Linked DNA regions of Homo sapiens: region 1 is linked to region 2. Evidence: fine-mapped expression QTL. A gene starts in region 2. The other region holds a variant in brackets. All regions are shown on one strand. Distances are from middle to middle.

Region 1 (14,181 bases), 17 kb before region 2:
TCCCATGTGGGCTGATAGTTTAATGCCAAAACTCAGTATAATACGAACAGTTCTCTAAGAGGACAAAAGTGTGATGCAAGTACATATTTCTCTGGCTTAGTCAAGGAATAAAATTTAAGAATATCTTTAAGAGGTTGAAAATAGGCAGATTGTAGTTTTGTCTAACTTATATTAAAAAAAATTCCAATTGAGTTATAATTCACAAAGAACAAGGTGCACAAAAACCTAAGTGTATAGCTTACTGAATTTCACATATGTCAATGTACCACCTTTCAGATCATGTGGAACATTACCAGGACTAAGGTTCCTTCATGTCCCTTCCCAGTCAATACACCCCTAAAAACAGCCCCTACTTTAACCCCAAGATCACAGATTAGTTTTGCCTGTTTTTTTAAAACCTTCATATAAACATGGAATCACACATTTAGGTATTATTTTCTGCCTGGCTTCTTTCATTTACCATTAGTCCACAACCCACTCATTTTTAAGAAGTAAATTCATTGCCAATATTTAAAAGTAAGGATTTTTAAAAACAATGAGATTTCTAGCTTCAAACAAACAAACAAACAACTTGGCAACACCAAGCCAATAAGACCAAATGAGATCAGCAGGAGCTAAAGTGTAACTGTCCCTTTAGATTGGGCAAGACTTCCATTGTGACAAACTAGATATTGATACTCCCAATGAAAATAACTGAAAAAGCTGCATGAAAGAGTAAAAATATCTTTTTTTTTTTTAAGATGGAGTTTCACTCTTGTTGCCCAGGCTGGAGTGCAGTGGTGTGGTTTCGGCTCACTGCAGCCTTTGTCTCCCAGGTTCAAGCGATTATCCTGCCTCAGCCTCCCATGTAGCTGGGATTACAGGTGAGCGCCACTACACCCGGCTAATTTTTGTATTTTTGGTAGAGACAGGGTTTCACCATGTTGGCCAGGGTGGTCTTGAATTCCTGAACTCAAATGATCCTCCCACCTTGGCCTCCCAAAGTGCTGGGATTACAGGCATGAGTCACCGCACCTGGCTGTAAGAATATCTTTTTAAAGACACTGCTGGCCGGGCATGGTGGCTCATGCCTGTAATCCCAGCACTTTGGGAGGCAGAGGTGGGCGGGTCACAAGGTCAGGAGTTCGAGACCAGCCTGGCCAACATAGTGAAACCCCGTCTCTGCTAAAAATACAAAAATTAGCCAGGCATGGTGGTGTGTGGCTGTAGTCCCAGCTACTTGGGAGGCTGAGACAGGAGAATCACTTGAACCCGGGAGGTGGAGGTTGTGGTGAGCCAAGATCGTGCCACTGCACTCCAGCCTGGGCAACAGAGCAAGACTCCATCTCAAAACAAACAAACAAACAAACAAACAAAGACACAGCTGACCTGGCATGAAAAGAAAAGGTTCTGCAGAGGACAGAAATGAAATTTAAGTGGAAAGCTTGGAGGGAAGGCAAGTCAGCCCTGAAACCATCTTCTGCTAAGCTTATGCCAAAGTCAAAACACAGTAACCTTAAGCTGCTGCTGCTTTTTTTTCCCCAGTTGCTGGTAGTAACCTTAGGCTTCCGTTTGGACAACAATGTAGGCATAGGAGACATGAATAAGGCCTAGAGCCCTCACTTGAGGAGTCTAATAGGAGGCCTACATAAAGTTGGAATCCCAAAAGGCTACGTTCACGGTGTAGGGTGAAGATGATAAGAAAGCCTGGGTGGTTTTAAACAAAGGAAATACCAGTAGATATGGGAGGCCTACATAATAGGAGGCCTACATAAAGTTGGAATCCCAAAAGGCTATGTTCACAGTGTAGGGTGAAGACGATAAGAAAGCCTCAGTGGTTTTAAACAAAGGAAATACCAGTAGATACGGGGCAAAAATAGCTGAATTCCATGAAGAGGACTTGGTCTTTAAGGAGACATGCAGGTAAAAGGAAAGTATTAAAGGTAACTCCCAGTGGTCTGGCTTGGGTAACTGCAGACTGTGATACCATTCACTAAGATAGAAAAGACAGGTAGAGACAGTTTTAGTAGGCAAGAGAAGATCATAAATTTATTGCTAGACATGCAGTTTTAACTATGGGACAGCCAAGTAAAAAAGTTCAGAATGTTGGAGATAGAGATGTTTGAGAGATCAAAATTTGTGCTATCCATCATTACACACGAAGTACCTAGAAATAACTGAATACCAGTAGGATCTCTGATGATCTGACAAGTCTATGCTGATCTTTGTCGTGCTGAACCTCTACTCACTCAAATGGGGATGGCACCAGGTTCAAGATGCCAAATAAGAGATCCAGAGCTAGCCAATGAGATTTGGGGTTTCACTGAGGGCATACACATAAGGGAGAGTCCAGTGGCAGCAGGCTGGACAGAAGAACTGCAACCGCTTGCAAAAAGCATGCAGTTTAAATAGTACTGTCACTTAGTACCCTTTTCCTAACGATCTCCACCTGACAACTTTCATTCAACCCAAAACTTGACACCTTGATCCTCTGTATGGCTCATGTTCCACGGGATGGGACAGGGGCTCAGATGTTCCTCATAGACAAGAAATGAACCTCCAGGTTGGCTACTCCCAGATTCCCTAGCTCAGAACACACATTCAGGTGTGTATGCCACACAGGGTCATTCTCAGGGTATGCTTAAGTTATTGCTATCAGATATGTTTACCATGCAACCTTTCTAATGAATTCAGAATTGAGCACCCAACTCAAATAACCTGAAAATCTTCAGATCATCTGTACGTCTGAATAAACTTTCCTCCTACACATATGAAAAAGGATCGTCAATGATGGAAATATAAAAACGTTGTATCCTTTAGCTACTGCTCCCATCAGTATTACTCATTGCTTGCACTTATATCAGACCAGATTTTCCTAACTGCTGGCTAATGGTTAGCATTTTTTTTTTCTGTGAAATACTGTAATATTTAGCTCAGAAGGGTTTTTACCATCTGTTTCACTAGAACATATTTCAGCTTCTGTCACTGGAAGGTCTTCAGCTGCACCCAAATTTTCTTGTTCCATTGAAAGGTCCAGCTCTTCATCTTGGATCTGATTAGTCACAGTGGGCAAGGGCTCTGGTTCAAGGTGCAGAATCAGATTCCCTTTCACCTCTTAAAAAAGAAAAATAGAGACACGTTTCCATTCCAAAATGATTAAAAATAACTGGATCACAAAAATGCAAAGGCCACGGTAATGTCTCAATCTAAAATATGGGGGGCCTCCTTCAAACAGAGAACTCATTTCAAGATAAAAACTGCTTTATCATTACAAACATATTTTCCCACCAAAACGTATAAAATCACTATTGAAAGCCCTACTGAAAATATCTTACTCCTGTCTGCATTGTACATATCTTCAAAGGCAAATTCCAATTCTCTCTGCCAGTCTTCTTTCATTTCACTGCGTTTGTATGGAAGTTCAACTAGTTGTGGTGGCATTTGTGCTACAGTCTGTCTCCTACGTGCCAGGTCCTCTTGCTGTAGCTGTTTGAGTTCTTTCATTAGTTTCTCCTGATTCTTCAAGAATAAAGAGAATTAACAAAAACTGAGTCACAAACTTTGTATGGTAATATTAACAATGTTGCAGGTAGGGGAAATGAGGATCAGGGTCTAAGCTTCTCTCCTCTCCTCTATTATTTGTTCAGCCAAAAGACAGACATTTATTCATTCAACAATTATTTGCTGAATACCAGATACCACATTAAGTGCTAGGGACACAATCTCAACCCTACCCTAGTAGTAAGACCAACAAATAAGTAGTGTTATGTTAGTAAGTACAATGAAAGAGTGGTACTGGTTAGGCCATAAAGCTGCAAAAAGTGTCTGCCAGCTACAGTTTTCCTTTCTGAGGAAAGTCATGAAGTTAATGTCTATATAAGTTGCCATGGCTCCTGTGATGTACTTTGTTCCAGTTCTCCATATACCTATCTCAGGTAAGCACCAAGACCCAGGGTGACTGTGGCTTAACATAGAATATTTCTTGTTACCTCACACTCTTATGAATTTCCATTATTAAAGGAGATCTGAATGTATTTCTTTAAGCTTAAAGAGTATGGCTAATATGAAAGTTTAATCAGTGTTTTAATGAGGTTATCTAATGGAATTTTGGTGGTAGAAGGTAAGGAGGGAGAACAAGGCAAGACTTCTTGTTCCTTGGGATGGGATAAGGATTTAGCCAGACAAAAGTGGCTGAAAGAGAATGAGTACATGTAAGAAAAAAACTGCAGCACAACAGTATGGAGATGAAGGCACGGGATATTCAGAAAATAGCACACTGTTCATTATAGCTAGGGCATGGAGGGCAAGGATGATTAGGGAAGGAAGATAAAACTGGAGAAGCAGGTAGAAGTCAAATATTAGTTAATATAGACACTAGAAGGAAATAAGGTCCCAGGCCACAATACAGTATGCAGCAAAAAGGTTCAGACAGGAAAAATGAAATCCTCTATTAGCAGTGAGATTGCACGGTTTTTTTTTTTAACAACCTTCTTATATAAGGAACATTAAGTCTACTATAACGTAGAGAAATCCTGCATTAAAAAAATGGTAATGGGCCAGGCACAGTGGCTCACACCTGTAATCCCAGCACTTTGGGAGGCCAAGGCAGGCAGATCACCTGAGGTCAGGAGTTCGAGGCCAGCCTGGCCAATATGGCGAAATCCCGTCTCTACTAAAAATACAAAGAGTAGCAGGGCGTGACGGCATGCGCCTGAAATGCCAGCTACTCGGGAGGCTGGGGCGGGAGAATTGCTTGAACCCAGGAGGCAGAGGTTGCAGTGAGCCAAGATCACGCCACTGAACTCTACCCTGGGCAACAGAGTGAGACACTGTCTCAAAAAATAAAAAATAAATAAAAATAAATTAAAAAGTGATAACATATATACATTACTTATTCTTTTGTAAAGTTTTAACTATTTTGTCTTTTGAGGATGAATTTTTTTTGCCATGTCCTGAAAAGGAAAATTATAAATGAACTTATTTCATTTATACTAAGATTCTAATTATCTAAAGTTGTTTGAGTAAGTGTACTATTCTAGCTCACTGCAAGCTAGTATATTATTCCTTTTGGATTATTTATAACAATGACCACTACCACTAACATTTACTGAGCTTATGAAATTCCAGGCACATTTCCAAGGGCTTTGGAAAACTCA[T/C]TGAATCCTCACAAAACAGATGATCAGGAGAGGTGTGGCAGGGGAGGTTAAAAAAAAAAAACAAAAACAAAAAACAGCCAGGCTTGGTGGCCCACACCTGTAATCCCAGCACTTTGGGAGGTCGAGGCAGGCAGATTGTTTGAGGTCAGGAGTTCCAGCCTGGCCAACATGGTGAAACCCCGTCTCTACTAAAAATACAAAAAACTTGGGCTGGGCATGGTGGCTCACGCCTGTAATCCCAGCAATTTGGGAGGCTGAGGCAGGCGGATCATGAGGTCAGGAGATCGAGACTATCCTGGCTAACGTGGTGAAACCCTGTCTCTACTAAAAATATAAAAATTAGCCAAGCGTGGTGGTATGTGCCTGTAGTCCCAGCTACTTGGGAGGCCAAGGCAGGAGAGTCATTTGAACCCAGGAGGTGGAGGTTGCAGTGAGCCAAGATCACGCCATTGCACTCCCGCCTGAGTGATAGAGCAAGACTCTGTCACAAAAAAAAAAAAAAAAAAAAAAAAAAAAAATTAGCTGGGTGTGGTGACGCGAGCCTGTAGTCCCAGCTACTTAGGAGGCTGAGGCAGGAGAATTGCTAGAATCCGGGAGGTGAAGGTTGCAGTGAGCCAAGATCCCAGCACTGCACTCCAGCCTGGGCGACAGAGTGAGACTCCGTCTCAAAAAAAAAAAAAAAAACAACACATGAAACAGAACTTAGAGAGGTTAACTAATCTGCCTGAGATCAAACAGCTGAGTGGTGAAGAAGACAGATAAATCCTGGCAGAATGACTGTGAAGCCCACTTGCTTAACTACTAAACATTACTGCTTTTATGGAAGAATCTGTTCAATTTATGACTGCTTTTTGTGTCTGTTTTACTATAGGTTTAAACCTTAGATGGGGAGAATTACTGATAATAATTCAGACATTCAGTTATTTTAGTCATAATTCACTCCTAGTTTATGAAAGCTAAAAATTTAAGGGAGAAGCTCATGATTTAGTTCAAACTATAAAAATAACCTTTCATAAGAAAATTTAATTTCCAATGCATTTTTAAGAAGTACTTAAAAACTCATTCCTAAGATGGGTATTTAAAAAATCCAAATGCATTAGTCAAATTCAGAAAATAAAATCAGACTTCTAATAAGATGAATCATTTTTATGCTATATTTTAAGACTAAGCACTAAATGAACAATAAGCATGACAGAAGTTAAGCTAAAACTATAAAGCCAGCTTTCATTACAATATTTTACATATTGATGACAGTCACTATTTATTGATTGATTGACAGAATCTCACTCTGTCACCAGGGTGGAGTGCAATAGTGCAATCTCGGCTCATGACAGCTTCTGCCTGCCAGGCTCAAGCAATCCTCCTACCTCAGCCTTCTCGGGAAATGAGGTCCCAGGCCACAACACAGTCCCAAACTGGGACTGACTGTATTGACTCTGTAGTCCCAGGCCACCACGCCTGGCTAATTTTTGGAATTTTGGTAAAGACAGGGTTTCACCATGTTGCCCAGCCTGGTCTTGAACTCTTGGGCTCAAGCCATCTGCTCACTTTGGCCTCCCAAAGTGTTGGGATGACAGGCCTGAGACAGGCCTGAGCTACCTCGACTGGACTTGACAGTCACTTTTTATTTAATTTTTTTTGAGACAGGGTCTCGCTCTGTGGCCCAGGCTGGCGTGCAGTGGTATGGTGTGATTTCAGCTCAACGCAACCTCCTTGTCCCGGGCTCAGGTGATCCTCCCACCTTGGCCTCCTGAGTAGCTGGGACTACAGCCGCACACCACCATGCCTGGCTAATTTTTCTGTTTTAAGTAGAGACGTGGTTTCTCCATGTTTTCCAAGCTGGTCTTAAACTCCCGGGCCTATGCGATCTGCTCGCCTTGGCCTCCCAGAGTGCTGGGATTACAGGCATGAGCCACCATGCCTGGCCTATTGACTGTCACTTTTTAAAAGCTCCGGTAGCAAGGATCATGACTTTATTTTTGAAACAACATTCTGCAAAGCCAACAAGTGCTTTGCTCAATACAAATTTAATGAACTGAATCCTCAAATTTATAGAGCACATATGCTATTGAAATAATCAGGAAAGTGATTTTTTTCCTCAGGCTGTTTTTGGACATATTAAAATATTAAACTTTTAATAAATTCATTAGTAAAATTTTTAGAATAGCAATACACTGGGAGAATAGCTTAACCCAATCAGAACTTGAAATTGGAGGGCAAAGAAAGTTGGGAAACTTGAAATCATATGAATCAGAGACTATATTGAACACCCACCCTTCCTACCTTTCTTTGAGCTCATTCACTAATCAGTCCTGCAATGCTATTAGTAAGTCCATGAGTAATGGTCATGGGTAGAATATAAGTCTTACTTGAGCCAAATGGATCTTCTTCATTGCTTGGAATCCCCGTACATGTGCCTTTTCAAACCGTTCCATTCTCTCTTGTGCTGCCTGTTTTTGTAGTTCTTCCAATCGTTTAGCTTCCTCTTCAGCAGCCAAACGAGCATCTGGCTAGCAGTCAATCAAAAATTGTAGGCAAAATTTTTAAAGTGTGAGACAAGCAGTAACTAAAAAACAAAACAACCTTAAAATCATGTTTTCTACATATATAAAATATAAGAAGAGTTATATTTTAAAATGTCCACAATTATCAACGGCATGTACCTATGAAAGGGATCAAATTGTTAGTATAAAGCTTTACGAGTTACTCATTTTAAACCAGATGAGGTTATACTCCTCCAAACACATTTATCCATCACTTTGTAAGCAAAGAAATCTCTTGCTGGGCGTGGTGGCGCATGCCTGTAATTCCAGCACTTTGGGAGGCCGAGGTGGGTGGATCACCTGAGGTCAGCCTGTCCAACACGGTGAAACTCTGTCTTTACTAAAAATATAAAAATTAGCCAGGCATGGTGGCGGGCACCTATAATCCCAGCTACTCGTGAGGCTGAGACAGGAAAATCACTTGAGCCCGGGAGGCGGAAGTTCCAGTAAACTAAGACTGTGCCACTGCACTCCAGCCTGGGTGACAGAACAAGACTCCATCTCAAAAATAAAAAAAAGGAAACTTCATTAAAATGACAGTATTGAAAGGTAAATACCCACAAATCTCATTAACATAAATAACACAAAAAAGAGAAAGAGGCACAGAGTCTGGATTTACTTTTTTTTTTAAAGAGATGGGTCTTGCTATGTTGACCAGGCTGGTCTCAAGCAATCCTCCCATCTCGGCCTCCCAAAGCGCTGAGATTACAGGCGTAAGCTACCACATCCAGCCTGGATTTACTTTTATTATCTGAACATTCACTTTCAAGTATAGGTAAATATTCTAAATGTAACCAGCAGTAAAAGTCTTTTTCTGTCTTTTGTATGTTGAAATTCTGCCAGCCAGTTGAAACAATTAATGATGACCAAAAAAGCTGTTAACTTCAAGTGTAAGATTATTAAAAATTCTCACATGGTGAGATAAATAGGTAGAGAGATTGACAGTTATTAAATTAACAAAGAGTACACTGGCCAAACAAATTTATCAAGAATATAACCGCTTTGAGCCACTAAATATTCATGCAAAACTAAATAACATCAGGTAAGACAAAAAAAGTTAGATTAAATCAAAATTATAATCTGTAGGAGTATTTAGTATATCAATATGTATGATATTAAATAATATAACCTCTGAGAACAATATTTCAATCCATTTCAGCCATGAGGTTTTCAAGAAAAAAGTTGTTTATGAATTCTTCACATCTCTTGAAGATAAATTAAAAGCAGTATGTCAATTTTGGTAAACCAAAATTTTAAAGAAAGGAAAAATTTCAAAATAGCATACAACATGAATGATAAATATCAGTCCAGATATAAAAAAGCATATAAAGGATATGAATAAAGGGTTAGAGAAAAAGTTAGGGACCACAAACAAATTTTGTTCTTATTGATCATACTTCAAAACAAGATTTATAATACAGCTTTAGGAAGACAATCCCCTATAGATTTGTGTCAATGCAATTAAAAACATAACCATAAATCTGGTTGAAATAATGTTAGATTCTATTTTCAGTATGTGAAGATCAAAGATATATGAATGATAAATGCTATTATTAAATACATTTCTGAATCTTGTACATCAGATATTTGGACAGAAATCTTTTTAGATATAATAGAGCATGGAAAATTGATGATGAATTTAACTGATTCAGCTTCACTTTTCTGCAGACATTTCTGGGTCTCACCACAAACAATACAGTTAATCTGACTGAATATTTTCAGAATGCAAAGTTCATTTGAAAAAAATGCTACGTAACTGTCACTGACAAAGAATAGACATGATGAAGCCCATGAATATGTAATGTAGGACTTTTAAGCGTATGATGTTTTGTTCAGTTGTGTGTAGAGGTAGCGAATGTAGCAAAACAAAATGTAGAGAATTACTGGCTGTAAGTAGGACTACAGCAGGCCACTTTCATAAATCTTCTTCAGCCAAAGATATATATTATGACATATAAAAGATTTTGGAATTACTTTATCAGGATATTAAAAACACACACACACACAATAGCAGCTCTTATGTGCTAAAAAGGCTGACTGAACAAATGAAAGTTTATTTGCAGAAAGCTGCTAAAGAAAAATACCCAAACATATATGCCAAGCGTGCAAATATTTTTTATATGATACCTGCTGTAAAGATCATATCGTACTCCTCCAGGGAAGATGCTAAAATTATTGTGCATGTGATATAAGTTGAGTGCAGATGAAAATTCAGAGGTAATTTTATCTTGAAAGCCAAGCACATTGGTCATCACATTTTAAATCCAAAGTTTAAGGACAGACTTTTCCTAAGTGATACAGTAAAGCAGCAAATAAAAGAAAATATTCGAATAAAAATGTGTTCAGTAATAAACCCATTTCTGAAAATATTCAGAAATCATATCTTCATTCAGTACACAAAGCTTTAGTTTGTGGGAATACTTTCATAAAACTGTTAGAAACAAAATTTGTTTGTGGTCCCGAACTTTTTTCTAACCCTTTATCATTATAACTACTGATCTAATTTTTAAGTCCAAAAATTGAAAAGGAGGTAGGCCTTCTGGTTACTATCAAAAAAGAAAGCTTATGGATATTAATTTAATACCATCAGCAGCACCCTATGCTGACAGAGTTAGGTAAAAAAAAATTCATCATCAATCTTAGTTAAAAGGTAGCATCTTTTCAAATCACAAAAATGCAGTAAACAGTAAAGCAGTTAGCAACAAATTGAAGTTATTGTTCCTACATCATAATATCGAAACTGTAATAATACTTTACAATTTTAAATAAATCTCAGATTTACTCTTGCATCTTAGAAGTTCATTCTGTGATGATATTCATTTTAGTTCTTAACTGAATATTTTAATACCTGCTATTAAGCAGTCAACCAAAATGTGTATTTGTTGCATTCTAAATGCCACAGGAATGCTATAAAATTTATTTTCCTAGTAGAGAAATATATTCAACATGAAAAAAATTAAAACCCCCACTGACACAGAGAAATAGCAATTATAATAACAATATATCATTTGTTACTCTTAAGACTGGCAATAATTTTTAAAACATAATATTCAGTGCAGAAAAGGCTATGGTAAGGTGGTCATTCTCCTATGTTGCTGATGCTTTTAAAAAGCAATTTAATGATCTGTATCAAATGTTACACAGTTTGGAGCCAATACTTTCTCTTTCAGGAATTTATATATAATCAGAGATGTGGATAAAAACGTGCAAGATAATGCTTACATTACTTACAGAAGCAAAAAATAAAATAATGGTTAAATAAATGCTACCATGAAATATTAAGTGGCCACTAAAAATCATGTTTTGAAAAGTGTGTGTATATGTTTATATTTAAATAAAGGTTATAATGAATTTATTAAAACATTAACTATATTCCACTTTGGTGACAGAATTGGTGTTTTCCCAATAGTTTACACTTATATGTACAGTTCCAAATTTTCCACAAATAGCATGTAATATTTTATGATAAAAAAAGCTTTAAAATCTGCTATTTTAAAATAACCATTTAAATAGCCAACTAGTTTCTTTAATTCATATTAAACCATCATATGCCTGACATGAAAATTCAAAGCATTTAAAAGGTTTTGATTATTATTATCAATTGTCCAAATTTTGAAATCTGGGAACACCATACATATAACTAAGATATAATTCAATTCAATGCACACAGAAATAATAAAGCGAGGGCATGAAGAAACAATAAGTCAATCACCCGTTTTGTGTCTGTCTCTCTATTCACAAAAGTGTGAAGATGATGGTAGGTAGAACTATTGGTTTTGACTGCAGAAATTCTTTTTACTTCGATGTTCTGGAAAAGAGAACATAAAAAAATAGGTTAAAAGCATTAATTTTCACTTAAAGCTGAATCCAATGCAAAAAAAGTAATTTTGTATTTTAATGAGTTCTCCGCATCCAAAACATGCTAAATATCTGCTCATAATGAAATCAAATTTTTTGAGTTAAATTACTTCAAATTTTAATAAAAGTACCAGATTCATCAGTATTTCAAATCATCTTCAAGGTGTCGCTAACTAAATGTGTTTTATTCATCTCAATTTTTAAGTTATTTATAGAGAAATTTCATCTTTAAATCTCCTGAATATAGAAGGGCTTACAGGCCATATCAAATGAAATGAAAAGCACTTCATTATATTTATAAGACAACAACATGCACTACTATGTCCTCTTCCATATCTAATCACAAAAATTCTACTGTAGTTCACATTAGTCTTATTTTCTCAATGTTTAATGACGTATTTTGAATTTTGGTCCTGAAACACTTGCCAATATATTTAAATTACACTTACTCCAGAACAAAACAACTCTCAGAAGAATGAAAGTAAACTACCTTCCCCCTTCCCTTTCCTGTATTTTGTAGTAAAGGCAGATTCAGTCCATCACAACCTATCACATACTGATGTTAAATTAATTAACTAAACTGACAAAGAATATTAAGTGCCTACTATGTGTTAAACATTACACAAGGCACTGTGAACGACAACGAGAAGTAAAATAAAATAATGGCCCCTGGCTTCAAGGAGCTCACAGTAACAGTTCTAACTAGAAGTTCTAACGATTACACATAAATTAAATAATAAACCATGCATTTTACAGATAATTTGATGAAAAAAATATCCACAAAGAAATGCTAACACTTCTGCTGGATGTCTTCTGTATTATATCCCAGTAGTGAAAACTTAGCAAAGTCCCTCAACTTTTCTGTCCCTCGGCTTTCTCAAGAAAAGTGGGTTTATAGCTATCGCTATACCATATGATCATTGTGACAATTACTGTAAGAATCAATTAATGTATAAAAAGCACTTTTAATTTTTTTAAGGCCTGTTGACAAGGCCAGAGTACAGTGGCATTGTACTCTGCACTGTAACTCCTGAGCTCAAGCGATCCTTACGCTTCGGCCTACCATAGCTAGGACTACAAGCATGTACCACCATGCCTGGCTAATTCAATGACATCACAAATGCAACACAGGTTGGGAGGGAGAAAAGTTTAAATAAGAATAGGTTGAGAATTAACCAAAGTTTTAGCTATAACATATATGAGTGTGGAATGATGAGGAGGACTCAAGTGAACAGAAACAATATAAAGGACAAGAAGGGGCTGGGCGCGGTGGCTCATGCCTGTAATCTCAGCACTTTGGGAGGCCAAGGCAGGTGGATCACTTGAGGTCAGGAGTTTGAGACCAGCCTAGCCAACATGGTAAAACTCCATTTCTACTAAAAATACAAAAATTAGATGGGCATGGTAGCACACACCTGTAATCCCTGCTGCTAGGGAGGCTGAGGCAAGATAACTGCTTGAACCTAGGGGTCGGAGGTTGCAATGATGCAAAATGAGCCAAGATTGTGCCACTGCACTCCAACCTGGGCGACAGAGCAAGAATCTGTCTCAAAAAGAAAAAAAAAAAAGAAGGGGGGATTAAGAAAATCCAAGTAAAAATGTACAGTCTGATGTGAGCAGAATTATCTGAGTAGTTTTTAAGAACTTCTCGTGTCTTGGCCCCACACCAAACGAATTAAATCAGAATCCATGGAACAGAGCCCAGTATTAGCATTGTTAAAAAGCTGCGGCCAGGCGTTGTGGCTCACACCTGTAATCCTAGCACTTTGGGAGGCCAAGGCAGGCAGATCACTTGATGTCAGGAGTTTGAGACCAGCCTGACCAACATGGAGAAACCCCTTCTCTACTAAAAATCAAAAATTAGCCAGGCATGGTGGCACACACTTGTAATCCCAGCTACTTGGGAGGCTGAGGCAGGAGAATCGCTTGAACCCAGGAGGCAGAGGTTGCAGGGAGCCGAGACTGCACCACTGCCCTCCAGCCTGGGCGACAGAATAAGATTCTGTCTCAAAAAATAAAAAATAAAAAAAAAGCTGCACAGGTGATAAATGTACAGCCAAAGTTGAGAATTACCTAGACCAGTCAGAAGATAACTAATTGGCAAATACCTGGATATACATCCAGATATGTACAATAGAGGACCTTATTCAGGGTCTTATCATTTAGGTAAAGGATTAAACTGACCACTAATGAAAACATTAACTAGCATACATATACACATATACATATATATATTTGAGACAGGGTCTTGCTATGTTGCCCAGGCTGGTCTTGAACTCCTGGGCTCAAGGAATCCTCCCAACTCAGCCTCCTGAGTAGCTAGGATCAAAGGCAGGTGCCACCACACTCAGCTTTAACTAGTTAATATTAAAGTTCAGTAAGAAACTGAAGTCACAAAACAAAAATTCAGAGATGGTAGTACACATTAGAATGCTTCACTCTACGAAGAATCTTAGTAGACTTTAAATCAATGCCTTGAAAAAATAAACCATAGGCTTCTTGACAAGGAAGAACTCTGAAGAAAACAAGTCTCTAAAATGATGTAATTTGATATACAAATGGGATTCAGTTTACACATTTTAAAGTACCAGTACTTCCAGAGTAAAGGCAATTATGTATAGATTGAATTTGGAATCCTCCCAAAA
Region 2 (17,641 bases):
CAGAGCAAGGAAATGCTCATGGAGTCACGGGGACGCAAGAAACAACTTCAAGTCTCCTGCTGACCAAATTTCAGATATTACGAACATCAGTGAGAAGAAAAAGAATGACTATAATTGACTATGTAATATTGAGTAAAAAACCCCCACAAGTTAACAGTGATAGTAACAAAAGAGAAAGGAAAAAAAAACCCATTTACCACCAATGGCATTGATTATTACCCCAACCCTTTACTCTGAAAACTGGCAGAGAGGAAAAACAAGGAATATATCCTGTTTTCCTAAAAGGAACGAGGCTGGGTGCAGTGGCTCACATCTGTAATCCTAGCACTTTGGGAGGCAGAGGTGGGTGGATCATCTGAGGTCAGGAGTTCGAGACCAGCCTGGCCAACATGGTGAAACCCCGTCTCTACTAAAAACAGAAAAATTAGCGGGGCATGGTGGCAGATGCCTATAATCCCAGCTACCTAGGAGGCTGAGGTGGGAGGATCGCTGGAACCCAGGAGGTAGAGGCTGCAGTGAGCCAAGATTGCACCACTGCACTCCAGCCTGGGTGACAGAGCAAGACTCTGCCTCAAAAGAAAAAAAGAACTAAATAGTTCATGCCCACTGATTAATTCATGCTTGTCAAAGCACTTACAGAGTTTTGTTTACTTTTTATAAATTTTTGACTTTGGCTTGTTATAAATACTAAGAATTAAGACAAAAATAATCAAAAGGCATCATGGATAATACATTGCCTGGCTTTTATCATGTCACTTTGTACCGAAGGAGTGACTGAAATACAACTTTTCCGTCTGAATTTTGTTGGATCAAATGTTACATGGTAGATGGCTCAACGTACAAGCAGGAAGGCTGACAAACTGAAAGGCCTAAGAAGTGAGTATCTGGTACTTATGCTTATACAGAATATACTTGTATGTACAACTATGTATTTCTGGGTTTACTTCTACTTCATTCTTCAGATAAAAATAACTAGGTAATTTTGACAATCATCCAAATAGCCATTTCAATAACTATAACAAGCTAATGTGGAGAACAAGTATTTTAAAAAATTTCTGCTTTAATTACATTTTTTTAAAAAAAATAAGCTTCAAATCACAAAAGCACACATTTTACTCCCATAAAAAATAGATCCTTATTATTTTATAATATTTTTTTCCTCTTTTCTTTTTTAAAATCACACCTGGATACTTTATAATCTTATGTAAATTTATTAACTTAACTGAAACTTATCTGTAAAATATTGACCATTTAAAATAAGCCAAATTCAGAGTGTGGGAAAGCCTAATGGACGAATAGTTTAGTTTTTTCCCCCAATAAATAAATAAAGGGTATTTTTTCAAAAGGCAGAATTATTAAAAGATTTTTCAAAACCAAAACCATTATAGTTTTCCAAACAACAAAATTTTTTTGACATCATTGAGGAAGGCTGAACAAATACTGGGTATTAAATAATATTGGAAACAATATTAGTATTATACTAAGAAAAAAGTCCTTATACATCAGAGATACATACTAAAGTATTTACAGGTGAAATGATATCTAGAATTATTTTAACATACTCCAGATATACTCCTGTACAAGTTTTTAATTGTACAAGAAAACTTGTACAATTAAGTTTAAGTGATAGTCATTCTGACCTCCACTGAATTATAATAGTAAAGAAGAATTATGACCTAGTTCCTCTTAATACTCAAACTCACCTCAAAAAGAGTTGGAGGAGGAGGTGGCAGACTTGTAATTTTGGCTGATCTCTCTTTTTCCACAAGCAGTGCTTCCTTTCGAGCTTTTATATGCCTTAAGAAACAAGAGATGTCATCAATTAATCTCTCAGTGATAATATTATAGTACAACAGGGTTAAAAATATGTAAGTCATAGGCTCAAGAAATCCTCTAGTCTGATTCCACAGGCTCAGTAAGCTTTACATGTGTAAAGAGTCTATACATATGTTAAGAAAATGTTTACAAATTGAGAGAGGCCTATCTAAAGACAGAAAGCTCTATGGTGGGGACCAACCCAAGAAACTTATAATGTTCTTTAGAGTGAAAAAAAAAAAAACAGAAATGTTGTTAAAAATGGCTGTTGCTAACTAGTAACAGGGCCCTTAATTTTTTACTTTGCTTCACTCACGTTTCCTGTGAATGGCCCTTTAATTTTTACAACATGCAAAAAATACTAATGACTTCCAGAGTCTACAACCTCTTTTAATGTTCTTAATCACATCAATTTTTATTTCATGTTTACATCGGAAACAGACATTGGTTGACATGCATTCTGAAGTAGCCATATATTTTTTCAGAAACTTAGTAACTGCTGCTAAACTCAACTCAAACTACAACTAGAAAAGAAAGCTCATTAGTTACTATGTTCACCTAAGCAAATCATTCCCTGTCCCCAACATTATTTTTAAATCAAGTTTAACAAATGCAATGAATATGCTACTATGTTTATTTAATATTTGCTTACACAGTATCCTATGTATCCTCTACTTTCAACCATGTTAGTTTCAGTTGAGATTATAGTAAAAATTATTACTTTACCAGGTTTTTTGTTTCAGTAATATTTCTTTTTGATTTTTCTGTACTTTCAAGGCTTCTTTATGCCTCAAATCTGCTTTTCTTTTCCTTTCTGCTGCCCGCTGTGCCAAAGCATCCAAATCAGGTTCCTAAAAATATATATTACTTAAAATGTCATGTTAAACAAGAATAATAGAAATGTGTCTCATATGATATCAGAAGTGATTTATCAATTTTGTCATCTTCTTTCTACATACTATAGCAGTGTTTCCCAGAGCATGACAACAGTACCACTGATGATATGCCATATTAGGGGGGACAAACACAAACATTTTAATGTAAAGTTAATGCAATCAATTAACATTATTACAAAAATATAAATAGGATATCGAACTACTTAGGACATGGTTAAAGTACGTAAAATATATAGTGATATGGGTAGTTTCCCAGTCAGGGCAAAAATTGTGAACATGGTATTCAAATAACAGAGGTTTGGGAAACATTGCATTAGGCACAAACTTAATGTGGCATGCATAAAACCACAAAAACCTGAGTCAGAACTTACGGCTATTACTAAAAACACAGACTAAAACCAAGGACCATGAAACAGATTGCCACAGTCTTAAGATATTTTCTTTCTCACTAGTTGTTATCAAAGATTTACCTTCTTTGTAACTAGCTTGTTTACTGTATGTGACTGATTCTGGGACTGTAGTATTTCCACATCATAAATCACAATAAATCAAAATAATGGGGCAGACTTACTGTGACTTTCTGAAAGTCATCAAAAAATGTTTGTTGGGGGGTTGAATTCACCCCACCAAATCTGTCAAAAAATGCCTGAGATGGACAACAACTTCTGATTCAGAAGATTATTATTTCCCCAGATAGAGGAGTACTGGAAGAGAATAATGCTAACTTGAACATCATAGGAAGACCAATTTTATTTGACATGGATTTTACTTGAAATAACTCTTAGTAAGAAATGAGCCTATTATTCACAAATTACATTAAATTTATAAAAAAGTTCAAGCTGCCCCAAAGAAATTCAATGCATGAAAATGTTATCAGAAAAGCATTCAACAACTATAATTTACTTTTTACTAATATTACTGCCACAACAGGGTAGTCAAATAAGATCTCACTCACATTTTCTTTGGCCTGTCGATGTCCCTCTCCCATACTTCTTAAACTTGCCAAATACAGTTTTTCCAAGTTCTGTATTTTCTGAGTTTGTGATTCTTCCCATTCTGCCCTTAGCTCCTCTGCCAAACGTGTAAATTGTTGATTTCTCCTCTGTTTTATGTCTTCTCTTATCTGTAAGGCGATATCTCTTTCTTGTTCTCGAACCTAAAGAATGCATATTTAACAGGTTATATGAAAGGAGGTTTACTTAAACTTTTTTGAAAAGCTATTTGGAAAGAGGAACTCAAATGAATTCTCTTAAGTCTGTCAACTCTCTTTGATACTCATCTTGTATTAGATAAAGACTATTTAAAGCAGAAAATCTGAGTGAATGTACAAAAAGTAAAAATCTCAAGACTATATCTAATGTCTCCAAACTGATAGCTTTTATTCAGCGCCCACTCCCAAAAGGACTGCCATTATCACTCTAATAACCTATAAAAGCTAAAGCGATAAATATGATTCAACAAAATCTATAGCCCAGAGTACAGACAGAGCCAGATGAGAACTCCATTTCTGTTGTACATCATTTCTGATTCTAGACAGAATGGTGCCTGAAACATACTTCACAAAAACTTACTTTAAAAACACTTCTAGAAAAGGGTTATCTGCAATTTCCTGATAAATTTGTTTCAGCAGCTAATAATCTTTCCAATTAGCATTCTTCAAAGTCATCTAAGCTTCCTGTTACCAATTACAGACCATTTTTAAAAAAGATAAAGAGCTATTTTCAATATTCGAGTCAAATAATACCTATCTTCCAACTCTTCTACAATGTACTTAACCATCTCAGCCTATTTTTCAAGTGTTCCAAAACTAGTTAATACCAAATAACCAGGGCTCTCGTATACCCAGAAGAGGTTTTTAAATACAACATTTAGAACACTCTAATGTAAAAGAATACAAGTAATTTGAGGAAGAAAGGAATTTAAAACTTTATTACAAATAAGTCATACCTGTAGCAATCTTAGTTTTCGCCTTCTTTCATAATCTTCCTTCAAAATGAAGGCTTCCTCATTAGGACTCAATCTCAGCTTGTGAGTATTCACGACTTTTCTCTTCATTTCTGTGTACTTTATGTATGACAGTTCTGAATTCAAAAAGGAAAATGTCTATAAAAATAATGTAACATTAAAATAGGGCAGCAAAGATTAGAATAATTTTGTTTGTTTTTTTTTGAGACAGAGTCTTGCTCTGTCACCCAGGCTGGAGGGCAGTGGTGCGATCTCAGCTTACTGTAACCTCTGCTTCCCGTGTTCAAGCGATTCTCATGCCTCAGCCTCCAGGGTAGCTGGGATTACAGGTGCATGCCACCACGCCCAGCTAACTTATGTATTTTTAGTAGAGATGGGGTTTCACCATGTTGGCCAGGCTGGTCTCGAACTCTTGGCCTCAAGTGATCCACCTACCTCAGCTTTCCAAAGTGCTGGGATTACAGGCATGAGCCACCATGCCTGCTCAGAAAATTTTTAAAATTCGTGTTAATACTTTTGATATTTAAAGGGTTATATACATGCAAGGAAAATTTGAGTAAACGAAGTCCAACTTATTTACAAATAGCAATTATAAATTCACACTTAGATCAGTGATACTCAGAAGGGTGGGAAAGTGGAAATGAAGACTGAATCAGAATTACTCAGAAAAGTTTTCTCCTGTTTATAGCAGATTGTCTACCTCGAGTATCTGGACCTGACTTATTCCTGGTTAGCATTTCCAGAGTTTACTGAGCTTAAATGTGAAAAAGCACAAAGACCTAAAAAGATGTTAGCATAGAATAAATGTTTTCAAAACTATAATCTGACACTTTAGAACCTTCATAACTTGTTCATAACTAGCAAGGTTGCTGTAATTTCAAGGGTTCTTTGTTCCTAGATTCAACTCCCAGTCTACTGCATATAACTTGATCACCAAGTGTCATTGTTACCTCATGAAATCACATCAATCCCATGTTCTATAATCTACAGTAAACAATTCTTCAATAATTATAGTGACGTAATTTTTATATGAATGACTTGCTCGGCTGTATCAAGCGTTTAGTTTTCCAGATCTATTCTTCTTTTTTTTGAGATGGAGTCTCGTTCTGTCGCCCAGGTTGGAGTGCAATGACACAATCTTGGCTTACCACAACCTCCGTCTCCTGAGTTCAAGTGATTCTCCTGCCTCAGCCTCCTGAGTAGCTGGGATTACAGGCATGCGCCATCACACCCAGCTAATTTTTGCATTTTTAGTAGAGACAGGGGTTCACCATGTTGGCCAGACTGGCCTCGAACTCCTGACCTCAAGTGATCCACCTGCCTCAGCCTCCCCAGTTGCTGGGATTAAAGGTGTGAGCCACCACGCCCGGCCCAGATCTATTCTTCTGTTGCTACCGTTCACACTGTGTTCTCTCTCTCCTCCCTAGATTATAACATGCTCCTATTTGGGGGAACGAGGCAAAAAGAAATGGAATAAATATAAGAATCTATAGTTCTATAATTTGAATACCCTCCTCAGGTAATTCTGATATTAACTGGCTCCTATTACTGCCATTTCCAAAAAATTAGACACTTTACATGAGTACATGAGCATTTTATCTGAGACAATCAACATTTCTCAGGTCTCCCTCACAATGACCAGGCAGACAATCTCAGTTACTGAATATTTACATCTTTCTAAAGCTGGCTTAAGCCCTCCTTCCTCTACGAAGCTGTCCTCTGATAATTCCTGTTGCAATTTCCCACTCCTGATTTGCCCAACTCTAATACATTATTACCTATACATTCAGATGGGGACTAATTTTATGTTGTCTTGGTATTACCTCCTGTAGTTTTTCATCAATTACAGTTTGCTCTTTCTAGTTAGATTCCTAACAATTGAAGGACAATGGCTATGGGTTTTTTAATAAAAATTTTAATATTCAATTAAATTTAATAAATAACTACCAGGTAATATTTCACATACTATGGATGCACAATGTTTTCAACCAGGTGTAAACAGAATAGGGGCTAGGAGACTGTGGGATTACCTAACAGGGACTAATACCTTTCCAGTGACTTCTCCATCAGAATGTAAGCTCATCAGGGCAGAATGGACTTATTCACCATTTTATGTCCATAGCCTGAAAACAGTGTCTCGCCCATAGGTAGTTACTTCAGTAAGTGTGTTGACTGAATGAATGACTCAATGAGTTAATTTATGTGAAGTGCTACAGAGCTATACACAATCATCACAACCTTCAATAAGACTCTAACACCAAAAAGGACTAACTGCTGGCATTAAAAAAATCTTTTAATGCATCCTACTCATCTAATATTCACACGGCTTTGGTAATGGTAACTAAAGTACTGATTATATTTTTCATGCTATACATGAAGAAACAAGGCCTCTTGGGTTAAAGGACTTTCCCTGAGTGACAACATCTAGTGGCGGAGCCAAGGGAAGAATCTGGTTTCCTTATTCCAAATGGCTCCTAACTTTCCAACACACAAAAATATGTGGAGTGGCGAAAATTTTATTTAAGCTGTTGTTTTTTGAGAGTGAGAATTTAAAAAACAGAAAATTTAACAAAGAAGAAAAAAGAACAAGATTAATCTTCACAATGTATCTTTATTATTTTGTCTGAAGGTCTAAGAAATTCCCTCATATTTAAATAATTAAGACTAATTCCTGATGAATCTCATAGACATAATATTGCTGAATTTTTAAAAAGCCAGACACAAAAAAGTACAACAAAATTGATTTATATAAAGTTCAAGAACAAGCAGAACTAATCCATGAGAGGTAAAAATAAAGTTACCTTACTGGAAGTTACTGACTCGGAGATGGCACAAAGAAGCTTGCTGGGGTACTGAAAATTTATATATTTTGATCTGTATGATGGTTTAGACAAGTGTATACATATGTAAAAATTCCTCAAATGGTATACCTAGATTTGTGTTTTATTCTTATACTTTAAGAGGAAAAAAATCCTAATATTTCAAATTTTAGGTATCCATTACTTCATCTCAGAGGATTATTGAAAAACATATAAACATTTATTATTTTTAAGCTCCTAAAATGCGATAGAATAACTGTTTCTTCTTGTGTATAATTTTTAAATTTTTTAAACTTTTTATTTGGAAATTTCAGGCTTAGAATTCCCATTTGCCCTTTCCCCAGCTTCTCCAAATGTCAACGTCTTGTACATAACCATGGTACAATGATCAAAATCTGAATATTAACACTGACACAATATTTTTTACTAATCTACAGGCAGTATTCAATTTTTGTCAATTATCACACTAATGTCTATTTTCTGGACCAGAAGCCAATCCAAGGATATAACACATTGCATTTGTTGCTGTGTAACTGTGTGTCATCTAAAAAGCAGACGCTAAGATGGGAGTAAACCTGCAAATATTTTATTAGGAGAAATGCGTGTGTGAGGGAAAATGGGAGGGAGCTGATAAAAGTTACAAGCGCCTCAGACTTCAGTGTAAGTCTAACACTGAATGGAGGGAAGTAACAATGGGTAGACCCCTCTTAGACAGCCATGCAGTATAAGAAATGTTCAGCAAGAACCCGTGGGGAGATTCTCAGGAACAGGCCTGCCACTGTCAGTGGCTAGGAGCAGCCCATGGGAAGCATGGCCTCAGTGCAAATGGAGATTTCAGAATGCAGGAGATTAAGATATGTGAGTTACATTCTCATGTCAAAGTTGTCATGTCCCCCTTAATCTGGGACAGTTTCTCAGTCTGTCTTTTCAAGACCCTGTCATTTTTGAAAATACTGGCCAAGTACTTTGTTGAATGTCCCTCCATTTAGATTTGTCTAATCTTATGTGATTAAACTGAGGTTATGTATTTTTGGCAAGAACACCACAGAATTGATTAGGCACCTTTTCAGTGCATTGTTATCAAGAGGTAAATGATGCTGAATTTTGGTCACTTGGTTAAGATGATGTCCACCAGGTTTCTCCTCTGTAGTTACTACTTTTCCTTTATAAATATCTCATGAAGACAGAGTAGAGGCTACAGAAATATGCTTTTCATCATACTTTTGCCCATTGACGTTAGTATCCATTGATGACTGTTGTCTGAAACAACTACTGTGGTGTTTACCAAATAGTATTTTCTATTTCCATTATTCCTTCTACAATTATCAATCGGAATCCTGCTGTAAGGAAGTTTTCCCTGCTGCCCCATTTACTTGTTTATTAATTATTTATTCTTAGTAATATGGATTTTTAAATTCTACATTTTATTACTATCCAATATTGAAGATTATACTACTTATCTTGCAAGATTTCGTCCTGAGGATTAAATGGCTCCTGGTACATAGTAATCACAAAATTAACACTAAACTTGGAAGATCTGGGTTCAAGACCCAACACTGCCACTTATTAGCAGGAAGATACTGGCCAAGTCACTGAAGTCACTTTGGTTTCGTTTTCTTAAACTGTATAAAGGGAATAATAATATCTACCCCAAAAGGTTTGTTCTGACGTCTATGTGACTTAGCGTGAAGTCTTCAAATACACTCTAAGTATTAAGGACTCAAAAGTTCACCATTGTTTTAAAAGTTGAGTTTGTGACAGGATTGAATAACTGTGAGATTAAGGTGGCAGACACCAAAAGAGAGCGTGCTCTTTGCATGAAACGATCCAGGCAAGGCTCTTTTAACAGCTACCAGGTGGCAGGCCATGTCCGCGGGTGATCTGGGGGAAGCGCCCCTCCCCCGACACGGAAGCTCCGCGACAGGGGAGGCTGCGTGGGAAGCTCGCGCGACCCGACCCCAGGAGAGCGCGCAAAGCCTCTCGCACTGAGTTACCGGGTCTGGTCCGGACACTCCTTACAGCCGCCAGCCCGACCGCGGGCAGGGCCCACGGCCTGCGGAGCCTGAGAAACGCGAGCCGTACCTGCGTTCGCAACAAGGCGCCTTCCTGGGATCCCATTCCTCCGGAATACAATCCCAGCTCTTGGGCCTCGGGGAGTCATGCTCCTACGGGGCGACTGGGAAGCCAGTGCATCCCTGACTCACCTGAGAACCCGGGGCCTGGACACAGTAACCGCAGCTCAGAGCAAGCCAGCCTGGTAAGCTCCTGCCCATCAGCTGCCCAGCAGCCGTTTCTGCGCCTGCGGGAGAGCCATCGCCGAGCCGCCGTCACTTCCGTCATTCAAACCGCCCGCCAATGGCCGGACCAAACCGCGGGAATAGGCCCTGTCCCGCCTTCCTCGGGGGCCGCCGGGAAGGCTGCGCGGTGTTAAAAACCCCGCGCCCCGCGCACGCGCACAGGCACGCGCCAGCCCCAGCCTGCCTAGGGGCCCATTATTTGTCACACCTGTCAGGCTTTGACGTTTTCCCGTATGGGCCGCGCTCGGTGGCTCGCGCCTGTAATCCCAGCACTTTGGGAGGCCAAGGCGGGAGGATCACTTGAGCCCAAGAGTTCGAGGTTATGTATTTTTGGTTATGAGTTCAAGACCAAGTCCTTTTAAAAACATGGTGAAACCTCATCTTTACAAAAAATACGACAACAGCAAAAATTAGCCGTGCGTGGTGGTGGGCGCCTGTAATCCCAGCTACTCGGGAGGCTGAGGCAGGAGAATCGCTTGAACCCAGGAGGTGGAGGTTGCAGTGAGCCGAGATCCCGCCAGTACTGCACTCCAGCCTGGGCGACAGAGCCAAAGCCTGTCTAAAAAAAAAAAAAAAAAGTGCAGAGCCATGAGGGTGACTTTTGTTTTAAGGCCCCATCATGAAGATATCTTGGGATATGCATCCTTTTCTGTACTGACTACGGAATTCATTGGTACTATTATGCGCAGTTAACGTCTTATAGCTTTCATTTAAGGCCTCCAGCTCATAACAACAATGAGCCGTATGTTACCCTGTGCCTCCAGAGGTACAGCGCACGGAGAGCACCTCACGGATTTATCTGCTGTAAATAACCAATAATCAGGCGGTGAGCACAGGTTAATACCTATTGAGTATCTGTTATGTGCCGAGTACATTATGTTACTCTGGATGGATTATGATGCCTATACTAGATTTTGCAGTCTGGGTCATGGGGGTTAAACATCAGGAATCAAAGGATTAAAAATGGGGGGTGGGGATGGGAAGTTGCTGACACGATCAGATCTGGCTGCACAGTGGGGAAAAGGTCAGAGAGAGTGAAGACAGAAGGCCGTATACTACTACAGAAAGTGAAAGATAATAGCAATGAGAATGGAGAGAGGTGAGTAGATTGAATAGGAAGCCAAACATCAGGAATTGGTGGTTACCTGGTTATGGGAGGCACAAGAGGAGAAAACAAGGGTGATGCCCAAGTCCCAGATACCTAGCACCTGGGTAGATAGTGATAACATCCTCCTGGAACACACATGAAGAGAACCAGGAGGGAGAAGTAATAAGTTAAGCTTTGAATATTTTGAATTTGAGCTGTTTATGAGATATCTAGACAAAGGGATGCATTTCAGAAACTTAGGACACAAAATTAGCAGTACTTGACAAACAATTGCATGTGAGATTGAGAGAAAAGGGAAAGTGAAGTTGATTTCATAGGCCACTAGCTTGGGTAGCAGTGTTGATTCTTGATTGTAAAGGGAGAAATCAGAAATGGCAGTTAAGTGGGTAGGGTGATGAGCCAAGCTCTGTGTATATTGAACTTCATGTGCCTGTAGAACATCCAGTGATGTACTGTAAGCAGATGAATACATCGGTAGATAGCCCACAGAAAGAACTAGGCTAAGCATAAAGGGATTTCCTTGTTACATGAGTAATAACAAACGCTAGCGGAATGGATGAGATCACTTAGGGAGAATTTGCAGAGTGAGAAGAGCAATGAGCAAAGAACCAAACTCCGAGGAACACCAAAACTTAAAGGGATGGAGTAGGAGGAAGGAAGGTACAGGAAGAAATAGTGTGATTCCACCTCAGATTTACAGATCAGGATACTGAGTTACAGAGAGATTCAGCAACTTGGCCAAGGGCACATTTCAGTCAAGGGTGAACCAGGACTAGAATTCACGTTTCCTTCCCAAATATTAGGGTTCTTCTCAGCCTCTCTCCCCATTTCCTGTCACATTTATCTTGAAGAATATTTGTATTCATTTTAAACATTTTTTCAGCATCCTCCATACAGGCACGGAGATACTCTTCCATACCCGATAAAACATGTGCATATTATTTCATCCCTTGGGCTAGGTTTAGTGCCTGGACATGGGTTCCTGCACATGCTGCCCCATGGCACTTAGGAGTTCTTATTGAAATGAGCTGTTTAGAGGGCTCTCTATTGATTACACTCTAAGTTTCTTGAGAACCAGGAGTGCACTTTGTTCAGTTGCCTGGCATAAATGAACAAAGCTGAATAAATGACCAAATTACATGCTTCACTTCCTCAACCTGCATCCTTGGCAGAAATTCTACACTTGGAGATTTTGAATCGAGACTTGTTCTGTTTTTAATAGAAGGCAGTGAGGAATCAAAGCCCAAGTGGGCTTAGAGTCAGAGCATCTGGCTTAGCATTACCACAGATACTTTCTAGCCGTGGGACCTCAAATCAATGAGTCTTCATTTCTGTTTTGGCGATCAATTGCTGCCAACCGAACCACCCTGGAATGTCCAACATGGGTCACTTACTATGGCTGGCAGCTGACGTTGGCTGGCAGCTGAGAGCTCAGCTGGAACTGTTGACTGGAGTGTCCACTCATGACCAGTCCATGTAGATTGGACATCTCACTCTATTGTGGCTAGTTTGGAGAGGGAGCATCTTAAGAGTGAGCATTCGCAGAGGAATAAAGTGGAAGCTGCAAGTCCTTTAAAAGGTGAGGCAGAGAACGAGTTGTAGTAAGTTGTATCACATTTTATTGGTTAAGTAACATGGAGCCAGGCCAGATTCAAGTGAAAGGGAAATGAACTCCATCTCTCAATGGAGGCAGTGACAAAGAATTTGTAGCCATCTTAATCCACCACGTTTCTTAGTAATACTTCATGTCGCCTCTCTATAGGATGGTTGTGAGACTCAAAAGGCATGAATCATATGAGAGCACTTTGTAAACTCTAGAGGGGTATACACATACTAGGTAGTTTAGCAGTTATTTATTTTATTTTTCTGTCGAACACCTTTCTCTCCTCCTCTGGTACAGACCCAGACCTCTAGGCTACCGGGGTAGGCATGTGACCCAGACTGGACAAATCGCAGTTCTTGTTTCCATTGCCATTGTGACCAACCGAGGTACAGGTATGTTACCTAATTGGGGCAATCAGAGTCTTTCACAGGAATTGGCACTGGAGACAGCAGAGACAAATATTTTCCTCTCTGGGCTCATGTTAGGATGTAAACCTGGAGCTTTCCCAGGTGGTCCCCCACAAGCTGGTCTGAAAGAATGAGTGTGACAGCAAGGAGCGCAGAGAGAGAATTTGGATAGTGTTCAAGTCCCTGGATCTAGCCATACCTGAGGTCAATATGCCTGCCTATTCTGCAGCAAACTGGTAGCAGCCATTCAGTCTTCTACTGAAGCTGCTTTGAATGGGAATTTCTATTTTTTTGCAAATTAAAAAGGGCTGTAGATTTTTATTTAAATTCTCATAGACAAACACATCTGGACATCTTGGGAGATAGTATAGAATAATGTTTAAGATCTTGGCTGAGCACAGTGGCTCACACCTATAATCCCAGCACTTTGGAAGGCCGAGGCAGGAGGATTGCTTGAGCCCAGGAGTTTGAGACCAACCTGGGAAACATAGGGAGACTTAATCTCTACAAAAATATTTAAAAATTAGCCAGGTATGGTGGTGTGCACCTGTAGTCCTAGCTACTTGGGAGACTGAGGTGGGAGGATAGCTTGAGCCCAGGAGGTCAAGGCTGCAGTGAGCTATGATTGTGCCACTGCAGTAAGTAAACTTTGGGCAACTGAGTGAGACCCTGTCTGAAAAATAAAAATGTTACATAGATTTCTTCCAAATGGATTTAAATTTCTGGCTAACTCTGTGACTTTGAGCTAGTTACTGGACTTCTTTAAAAGTCTGTTTCCTCATCTCTTAAAGAGATGTAGTGAAAGTACTCAGGTTCTTGTGAGGTTTAAAGCTCTTGAAACAATGTCTGGCACAACATGTGCAATAAATGTTACCTTTTTTGGCTTTAATTTTAATACATTCATTTTAGAATACAAGAGAGGGAAAAAAACCCAAACTCTTAAATGTGTTTATTGGTGTTTTGGATTTGATTTTTTTTTTTCTTTTTTAGTAGAGATGGGCTATTGCTTTGTTGCCCATGTTGGTTTCAACTCCTGGACTCAAGTGATCCTCCCACCTTGGCCTCCCAAAGTGCTGTGATTACAGGCATGAGCCACCACACCCGGCCTGGTTTGATTTTTAATTCAGTCTTTTTGTAGAGTTTAGGCCTAGGGAGAAGTATGTGTATTTAGTTTCTAGTATTGTTAACCTATTGAGAATGAACCTCAGTAACCAGTGATCAAGAGGAAGAATTGTCCTCAGCAGTAATGACATTAGTGTCACTGGTTTATAATGCTGCCACTCTTCAAAATGCAACTGAAGCCATTTAAGATTTGAACAGTTTAAGATGTTTCTCTGATGGCAACGGTTTCACTGTTTCATCTTTATCCACATCCAATATAAGCAAATGATATTTAAGTGGGGAGGAACCCTCAATAATTCTTATGTATAAACACCAGAAAAAAGGGGGATCTCTGCAAGAACAAAAGTAATCAAAGAACTTCCATCTGACCATATGCTAACTGCCCTCTTTCTCCCTAATATACACACCACAGGAGCTTAACAAGTGACGGTGTCTCGGTAGAATAATTTAGAGCTACTACCAGGAGTGAAATTAAGAGTGCCAGGCAGGAGAGGAAGGATAGGCTGAGAAAAACTTTTAAAAGCTGTAAATATTTTTTAGAGGTATAGGGTAGGAGTTGAGCCAAGGAATTGAGCCACTTGCTTAAAGACAGTAAGAAGCAAGAGGAGATAATAGGGAAATTCACTGGCTCTGTTCCATCTTTTAAATCTTTCCCAGCACATTGCTAATATGATGTGTATCAAAAATACGAATACCTGTTAAGACATAAGTGGGTAGAGTTTGAGTTTCATGCTTAAAGAGAGAGAGAGAAGTCTAGTTAAAAAGAAAAAAAAAGGAAATCATATACAACCCAAAAAAGTACATAGCCATTGAGGGGGCTTGGGTAGGGTGGGGAAGAGTTTTGAAGATGTGTGTTTGAACATCTACTTGACCAACAGTTAACCTCCAAAGCTCAATCTCTATTTATAAAATAGGGATAAAAATACCAAACATTTATTATGCACCATGTGTGCCAGAAATATTAATACCTACCCTATCTCATAGAGCAGTTGTAAAGATTACATTTTAAAATTTTGCGTCGTAAAGATCAAATAGAAAATTTCTAAATATCTTACATAGAAGCATATAAATAACTATAAAAGATCCTCCTATGATTTAGCCACCAGTCCAGACTCAGGGCAGGTGACTGCCGTACCACCATTTCTTTGTTACTGCCATTTGACTCACTTGAACTGATCCAGCTTACAGAGAACAAGAACATCAATCAGTTCTGTTTACTTAGCATTCCCTTTGTCCAAAATTATTTTCATTTACCTGTGAACATAACTGTAACCTACACCCTTGCTACCCAAAGGGTGGTCCAAGGACCAGCAGTGTTGGCATCACCTGGGAGCTTGTTAGGAATGCAGACTCTGAGGCTTCTCCCCAAACCTGCTGAACCAGAATCTGTGTTTTAACTAGATCTGCAGGCAATGTGTATACACATGAAAGTTTGAGAAACACTGTTCTACACAAAGCCCTATATGAGGTAAATAAGCTCGATGCTATACTGGACATTTTGGAATCAACAGGTGAATTGGTGATATTTCCTAACCACAAGCTTAGTTTTCTCATTGCATTATAGCAGACCCTTCAGTATAAGTCTCCTATGTACAGATCTTATCTCTTAGAGTCATTATGATGTATTGTTGTTCAAAGGAAATTTTGTCTCTTCAACTTCCTCCCTCTCAGTATTATCTACACATCTGATCCAGCCTCAGACACTCATCTCTGGGGGTCGTTTTCTTCAGCTGTCTCCTTGCATTTTTGCTTTTCCCTCCTTGGGCAGGGTATCTTGTTTCTACCCCAAACATTCTCTCTCTCCTTTCTTAAAAACTGTAAAGACTTCCTTTAATAGTTTGCTATGGCTGCCATAACAAAGTCCTGCAAACTGAGTAACTTAAACAACAGATGTTAATTATCTCACAATTCTTGAGGCTAGAAGTATGAGATCAAAGTATCTGTTGGCAGGGCCATATTCCCTCTGAAGATTCTAGGGAAGGGTCTGTTCTAAACCTCCTAGCTTCTGGTAGTTCCTTGACTTGCAGATGCGTCATCCCAATATCTGCCTTCAGCTTCAGATGGCGTTCTCCCTGTGTGTGGGTGTGTTTGTGTGTGTTTGTGTGTGTGTGTGTATGTGTGTGTGTGTGTATGTGTCCAAATTTCCCCTTTTTCCAAGGACACCAGTCATACTAGGTTTGGGGCCCACTCTACTCTAGTATAATCTCATCTTTAATTACATCTGCAATGATCCTATTTCCAAACAAAGTCACATGCAGAGGTGTTGGGGCTTGAGATTTCAACATATGGTTTCCTGAGGAACACAGTTAAGTCCTAACACTTCCTCTTGAAGCTAGTGCAAGGATTGTGAAGTACTTGAAACAACCCCGTTTGTTCATATGACTCCCAACTCAGGATTTCGCAGTATAAAATCATAATATTTTGCATGGGCAAAGTAGGTGGAATAGTTGCTTCTTATTAGTGTGGAATTACTGTTGTGTGACTCCAAGTGTTGCCCACATCTTCCTAGTATGCCTGCTGTGCTGCTGGCTTAAAATGTGAGCTTGTCTATGGAAAGGATGATTCCTGAGAGCATCAAGCTAAGTATGCACTGATAAGTAGTGAGATAAAAATGCCCTTCCCTTCATAGCCACAAATCTAAAAGCTACCCATCTTTCAAGGCAAATGTTGTCTTACAAATTCTAATGTCTACCATTTTATTGAGTCCTTAAGTAGCCTGGTATTACATGGCTCAAGTGACAGAGCTGGGGTTTTTACCCAGACATTTCTAACAGTAAAGTCCATACCCTTCCCATTCCTTTCTGCTCACCCCATTGTATTTGACTCCACCCCAATCACTCAATGTATTATTCCTTTTTTTGCACTGCTCTTAAGAAATACCCAAGATGGGGTAATTTATAAGGAAAAGAGGTTTAATTGATTCACAGTCTGCATGGCTGGGGAGACCTCAGGAAACTTATAATCATGGTGGAAGGGGAAGCAGGCAAGTCTTACATGGGTAGCAGAAGAGAGAGAGAAGCACGAAGGAGGAACTTCCAAACATTTATAAAACCATAACTCACTCACTATCATGAGCACAGCATGGGAAAAACCACCCCCATGATCCAGTCACGTCCCTCCTTCGACACATGGGAATTGCAGGTCCCTCCCTCAACATGTGGGGATTACAATTCGAGGTGAGATTTGGGTGGGGATGCAGAGCCAAAACATATCACTCAATAAATATTTACTGAGTTCTTGTGTGAACAATGGTCTATGCTATATGTGTTTCTCTTCTAGCCAGCTGTGATCTGTAGGTATCCTGAACTTTCTCTGCTAAACTTTAATCACACCTTCTACCTTGAAGGAAACCGCATCTCTACGGGGCTAGAACAATAGGTAATCCTCAATAAATATCTGATGAACAAATGAAAGAATGTATGTACTCACAAATAATAGACTGTTTTTCAGATCCATGTCCTGATTATTGTAGTATGATCTAGCTTAAAAAATAATTCTGGGCTTTAATTCATTGGCTAGTAGGGAGGCCTTTTCCACTATATGTCTGGTGTGATTAAACTTTGTGCCTGGTGTACCCTCTTTTACTTGACTTGTTCCTATTGAGTGGCA

Which allele goes with the higher level. Alleles are on the strand shown, and positions count from the first base shown. SD is a standard deviation of normalised expression in the study named.
For the expression in stomach of the gene that starts at base 9,792 in region 2, allele T in region 1 goes with a higher level than allele C (moderate effect, 0.58 SD a copy in GTEx).

What was found.
Region 1: its variant is fine-mapped to the expression of CEP295 in stomach (GTEx, PIP 0.94).

Annotation. Positions count from the first base shown.
Region 1 is chr11:93,672,876-93,687,056 of GRCh38, reverse strand. CEP295 (centrosomal protein 295) reads right to left here. Exons shown (of 30, transcript NM_033395.2): 6 at 11,391-11,486; 7 at 7,505-7,645; 8 at 3,315-3,498; 9 at 2,929-3,093. Among named protein-coding and RNA genes, the nearest start is that of CEP295, 18 kb to the right of the region's middle. The variant T/C (reference allele first, on the strand shown) is at 5,136.
Region 2 is chr11:93,653,833-93,671,473 of GRCh38, reverse strand. CEP295 (centrosomal protein 295) reads right to left here and starts at 9,792. Exons shown (of 30, transcript NM_033395.2): 1 at 9,700-9,792; 2 at 4,659-4,792; 3 at 3,667-3,867; 4 at 2,542-2,666; 5 at 1,704-1,797. The coding sequence starts at 4,766. RefSeq lists an enhancer at 9,669-9,798 and a silencer at 9,959-10,028.